2 separate regions of the Homo sapiens genome follow, and region 1 is linked to region 2. A link means that fine-mapping ties the variant in region 2 to the expression of a gene that starts in the linked region. Tissue or cell type: whole blood. Region 2 holds a variant in brackets; the other region holds the start of a gene. All regions are shown on one strand. Distances are from middle to middle. Region 1 holds the start of EIF4E3 (eukaryotic translation initiation factor 4E family member 3). Region 2 has its middle 1.5 kb from the start of GPR27.

Evidence for each region.
Region 1: it holds the start of EIF4E3, and the variant in region 2 is fine-mapped to the expression of EIF4E3 in whole blood (TOPMed, PIP above 0.99).

The regions. Positions count from the first base shown.
Region 1 is chr3:71,723,793-71,726,693 of GRCh38, forward strand. EIF4E3 (eukaryotic translation initiation factor 4E family member 3) reads right to left here and starts at 1,610. Exons shown (of 7, transcript NM_001134651.2): 1 at 1,400-1,610. The coding sequence starts at 1,575. RefSeq lists silencers at 1,015-1,134, 1,265-1,334.
Region 2 is chr3:71,750,876-71,753,776 of GRCh38, forward strand. It overlaps a transcript of EIF4E3 not described here. Among named protein-coding and RNA genes, the nearest start is that of GPR27, 1.5 kb to the right of the region's middle. The variant T/C (reference allele first, on the strand shown) is at 1,810.

The sequences.
Region 1 (2,901 bases), 27 kb before region 2:
GTTATGACAGTATAATGCTCTCTTAGCATCCCATAATGAAAGTGAAAATGTTTTGAAAGAACGAAACTCACTCCATCTCCCCCACCCCCAACTTTTTTGGGTCTCCGGCAAAGAAAATGGCAGCAAGTGACAATTCTTATAGACGGGTGCTATAAGAACCCAAAAGGAAAAAAGAAATGAGCTTGTCTTAACCAAAAAAAAAATGAATATCACTTTTTTAAAACAAAATCTTGCAGTCATTTTATGCAAAGCCTTTTAAAACCAGATTTGTGTGTACCAAGCAAACTTCTCAGAACACTGTCACACATTTCTTCCTAACACTTAGCCAGAATAGACACGGTTTCATCAAAATTTCCAAATGCTCTTGGGACAACCTTGAGGTGTCATCATTGGGCACCCACTGCAGGGCAGACACTAAGAAGGGGCTTTGCATTCATCCATCTATTCATTCATAACAATTTCTGGTGTTCTTACTAGGGACCAGGCACAGTTCTAGGTCCAAAATGTCCAAAAACAAAAATCCACTGCTCTTTTATCCTTAACTGAGGGGAGGTGTTGAGGAGCTGGGGAGACAGACTGAAAGTAAACAAATTCATATATAATAAAATCCAGCTGCATTAAGCATTAGGAAGAAAAAGAAGGCAGGGCAGGAGAATACAAAACGAGGGAGCAAGGTTTCTATTTTAGATACGGTAGTCAGGGGGTCTTTCTGAAAAGATGGCACCTGGGTTGTCCCTTGAGAAAGCCATAATTCACCCCCTTCCTGACAAGGTCAGCTGCTGCTCATTATTGAATCTCCAGCGCATAGCAGGTGTGTGGCTCCACTGTAGGTGTTCAGGAAATACCTGCCCAGTGGATGAGGAAGAACTGGAAGAGGAGTCCACGGCAGCAGCGGCCGGACACGGGGTGGGAGCGCCCGCCGTGCAATAATCATTGCACCACCGCACACCTCCCAAGGGATGGGCAACTTTTCCGAGCGCTGTCACAGCTGAGGTCGTGTCCTGAGCTCCCAGGCGCCCCGCGGGGTAAGCAGGACAGCCCTCTCCCTGCAGCAGGGACGCGGCCACCCCCAGCTCGCCTACCCTCTCCCACGGCCCTGCCAGCACGCCGCGTTCCGATCGGAAGGGAACAAGGGGTAGAAAGTGTTGCCGAAACTTTTCGGGCTGCGCTGTCCTCCCCCGGCCCGGAGGCGAGGACGCCGAACAGCCGCCCGGCGCGGCCCGAAGCTGGCTTCCGACCCGGCGGGGCGAGTCCCGGGGTGCGCAGGCGGACGCGCGGAGGGGCCGAGGTCTGTGCCACAGCGGAGCGGGGCCGGGGCGAGGGGCCGCGCCGAGACAAAGCGGCGGTGGCGGCAGGACCCGGGTCGGGGCCGTGCGCGGCGGGCCCCGCGCCCCCTCACCTGTCGAGCCAGAAGGTCCAGGACGAGTGCAGCGGGACCCCGCCCGGCTCAGGCTGCAGCGCCGACAGCTGCTGCAGGCCGAGCGGCGGCTCGGGGGCGGCGGCAGCGGCGGCGGCGCGGGACCCCGGCGGCTCCCGGGCCCCGGCGGGGGGCGCGGCGGCCGGGGGCAGCGCCATTTTCTCCGCCCCGCCTGCAAGGCCGGCGGACGCGCGGACCGCGGGGCGAGCGCGGCTGAGTCACCCCCGGCCCCCGCCCCGCCCCGCCCCGCGCGCCCCGCCCCGCCCCGGGCTAGCCGCCCGCCGCCCGCCGCCCGCCGCCCGCCGCCTTCAGGGCCTGGGAGCCGCGCGGAGGGGCCGTGGGAGGCACGGCCGGGCCGGGGCCGCCGAACAAAGACAGACCCACGGAGGGATGGGGGGCCGATCCCGCTCAGGCGCGGGCCCAGCGTGGGAGACTGACGGCCTGGCCTGGAGTGGCGGCCGGGGACGGGCTAGAGGGCCCACGGGGGTGAGAGGGACCGGGGAACGGTCTGCGGGCTGGCTCTGCAGCCATGCAAAAGGGCAGCGGGATGGAGCGGCAGGCTAGGGACAGATGGAGGGATGGATGGGACAGGGGATGGAGCCCCAGACCCACGTGGTGCGAGGGAAGGAGGGATGGACAGACATACCAGCAGTCAGAAGGATGGAGTGAAGGCTGGCAGATGGCTGGAGGAGAGAAGGAGGGATGGAGGGCAGATGGAAGCACAGTTGGGTGTGACAGATAAATGGAGAGGGGAACCGATGGCCAAATGGATAAAGAGACTCCAGTGCCCGCGAGTACAGAACAAAGGGCGAGAAAGAAGAACGAACAAGAGAACCACCGACTGGGGCATGAGGTTGGAGCAGGTGGGCTTTGCATTCCTCTTGGTGAGAGCATACTTCCTAACTCCGCTGATTTGAAGGGGCCAGAGCCCCCATCCCAACCTCTGGAGCTACCATGTGACCACAGTGAAGGCCTCAAGCCTGGCTTAACGTGTGGCTAACTTCAGAGAACATTTCCCAAAATCAGCCAAAGTATCCAGATCTGCCCTAAAGCACCGGCGAGTCGGGAGGAGGAAAGCGGGCACCTGTGAACACAGAGCGCTCTGCTTCCTGTACCTCTGAGCACCCAGGAAGTCCCTTAGGCGGTGAGATTCCTGAGCCCAAAGTAGGAGGGGCCCTCCTAACACAGCATCTCCCCAGGTCTCTGTCACTTTCTTTTTCAAAAGAAAAGCAAAGGCATGAGGCCTGTGAACACACATGTCACAACCAGCATGGACATCCTCTTTACACTTGAATTTCTAGATAGTTCCTCTCTGGCTTTGAACAGTGAAGGGCGTGGGATGCCATCTCCTCATTGACCTTCTACCTGGCCTAGCATGTGTTCTGTTCATGCCTTGAGCATTCGCTGGGATGGAAGAGCTACAAAACAAGATGAGTTCAGGGGCATCAACAGCATCATAGCAGACTGTCATGAATCCCAGAGTA
Region 2 (2,901 bases):
GCCTCAGCCTCCTGAGTAGCTGGGACTACAGGCGCCTGCCACCATGCCCAGCTAATTTTTTGCATTTTAATAGAGACGGGGTTTCACCGTGTTAGCCAGGATAGTCTCGATCTCCTGACCTCATGATCCACCCGCCTCGGCCTCCCAAAGTGCTGGGATTACAGGTGTGAGCCACCGCATCCGGCCTCTACAAATAATTTTTTAAAAATTAGCGGGGCATGGTGGTATAAGCCTGTGGTCCCAGCTACTCAGGAGGCTGAGATAGGAGGACGGCCTGAGCCTGGGAGGTTGAGGCTGCAGTGAGCCATGATGATGCCACTGACTCCAGCCTAGGTGACAGAGTGAGACCCTGTTTCAAAATAAATAAAGTCAGACTTCCAGCTCTTACACTTACTTGAAAGTAAGTGTAAAGTAAGTGTAAGTGGTGAAAGCGTGAACAAATTAACCCTTCTGCCTCCTCTGCAAAATGAAGACAGTAACAGCACATACCACATCTGGCCATTACAATGATTACATTAAATAACACATGTCGAGAATTTAGCACAATGCTTGGCATACGGCAAGTGCTCAGTAAAAGGTGGCTGCCATTAGTATTACCATAAAGCAACCAGAGTTGGTGAATTTGTGTGGGTTATTAAGAAGGCATTCCCTCCTCTGGGCAGAGGCAGCCCAAGCGCTAAGGGCCACAGCAAGGCAGGATCGAATTCTCTACAGCCATGGGTCTAACTTTAAACAAAGAAATAAGAAACCATTTCCTACCCTCCCTTGCTCAAGTGCTCACTCTCAATTGATAGCCAATGATATGTTTAAGTGTTTGTTTATAATGTAGGGCTTCTAGAAAGCTCTTCCTACTTAGATGGCTGGAATATTGCTGCTCTTTTCCCTTTTCTTCTTTCTGCCTGGAATGAAGAAATGATGGCTGGGGCGTCGGCAGCCTACTGTGATCATGAGGGAAGGGCTAAAAGATTTTCAGAGATTCAGTCCTTGAGCCAATAAATCAATGTCAGCAACTACTGACCTCCAAACTTCTTCTTTCACGAGGAAAATAAACTCATGTACACGTTTTTTGCTACTAGTATCAAACTGCAATTCCTAACCCATACACCCTCCAAAATCTATTTTCTATCAACATACATTTACAGATGTGCCTGGTCAGCCACTTGCTGCTGGCCACTTAGGAGTCCCAAGTCAGGTGCTCAATAGTTGATTTTCTTGAAAAATCACTTAGATTTTTAAAAAAATATCCAAACTGTCCCCAAGGGCCTTACTATTCAAAGTAAGGTCAGCAGACCAACAGCATTAGTCTCACCCCGGAGCTTGTTAGAAATGCAGAACCTCCGGCCCCATTCCAGAACTACTAAATCAGAATCTTCATTTTAACAGGGTCCCCAGTGATTTCTGCACATAGTGAAGTTTGAGGCTCTGGACTAGGTTTACCGGCTCTGCTCTGTCATCCCTCCTCAACACTGCTGCCAGAATAATGTTCCTGGAGCACACCTAGTCATGTCGCTCCCCTTCTCAAAAGATTTCAAGGGCTCCTGACTGCCTGCAGACTAAAGTTTCGACTTCTTAGCCTGATCATTAAGGCCCTCTATGATCTTGCACTATCCTGAAAATGCCCATCAAGGTGCCTGCCTTGCATGTAATCAGTAGGCAACAAATAATTTTCTGCACAGAAGAAAAAACAAATGAGTGTGGGTGAGAAACAATGCGTTGCTTAATTCTGGCTTTACCATGCTAAGCACTGGGGATGCAGTGGTACCAAAAACCAGGCATGATCCCTTGCCTTCAAAGAGCTTAGAGCCTAGT[T/C]AGAAGAGCATGATTTTTAAAAAGAAATGAAAGTATATAATGACAAATTATAAGTGCTAAGAAGGAAATGACTAGAGGGCAGGGATACAGAGTAAAACAGACGGGTTAGAAGGAGGCCCTACGGAGAGGGAGCCTGTTGTGGGGCTGGTCCAGGCAGAGGTACCAGCACATGCAAGGTCCTGCGAGACAAATGCGGTGTGTCTGAGAATCATAACAGGGGCTGCCCTTTCAGGCTTACCCAGAAAATAGATATCCTGGGAGGAAGGTGGCATAGGGTTCACCTTCCAAGTCACTTAAAGATGAAATGCTGCATTTCTTTTCCCTGATATAGGTCCTTCACCGGGATCACGGATGAGTTAGCGAGCAGGGGATGCTGCGGAGTCGCTGTGAGTCCAGCACTGGAAATCAGACCAAGCGAAATTTGAATCCCAGCTCCGCTACTTCCCGGCTCTCAACTCCCTTGACCTCCAAGCCTCTGCTTCCTGAGGTATAAAGTGGGATTAAGGATGGCAACAACTTCGTGATTACTGTTGAGGGAGATAATGCTTGCCAAGCTCCCCAGCACACTGCCACCCACATCAGTGCGCACCTGAGTATCAGCGGTTTTAGGATTACGATGACTATTACTATCGTAAATTACTCCCAGCTTTCGGGCAGAAGGCTCATTCCAGATATTCCTGTCCCCTCTGAGGCCTCCCGACCCTGCCAGCCCAGGCAACCTCCCCCGCGCACGGCCACCGTGACCCCAGCGCGGGCGCCGCCGCCGGACCCCCGTTACCTGGGGCCAAACGCGACTTGTCGCCACCTTGCGTCCTGGGCCCTGCCTCCCTCCCGGCCGCCTCCCGACCCCGCGGCTGCTGCGGAGGCGCCCCCAGCCCAGCCGGGCCCAGGCGGTGCGGGATGCCTCGGCGGGGCTGGCGGCGGCGGCCGCGCTGCGCGCTCCGGCGGAGGGGAGGGGGCTCCGCGGCGGCGGCGGCGGCGGCGGCAGCGGCGGCAGCGGCGGCGGCGGGCCCGGCGGGGGGCAGAGCCAAGAGGCGCGGCGGCAGCAGCGGAGGAGTAGGAGGAGACGGAGGAGGATGCGGGGGGCTGCGG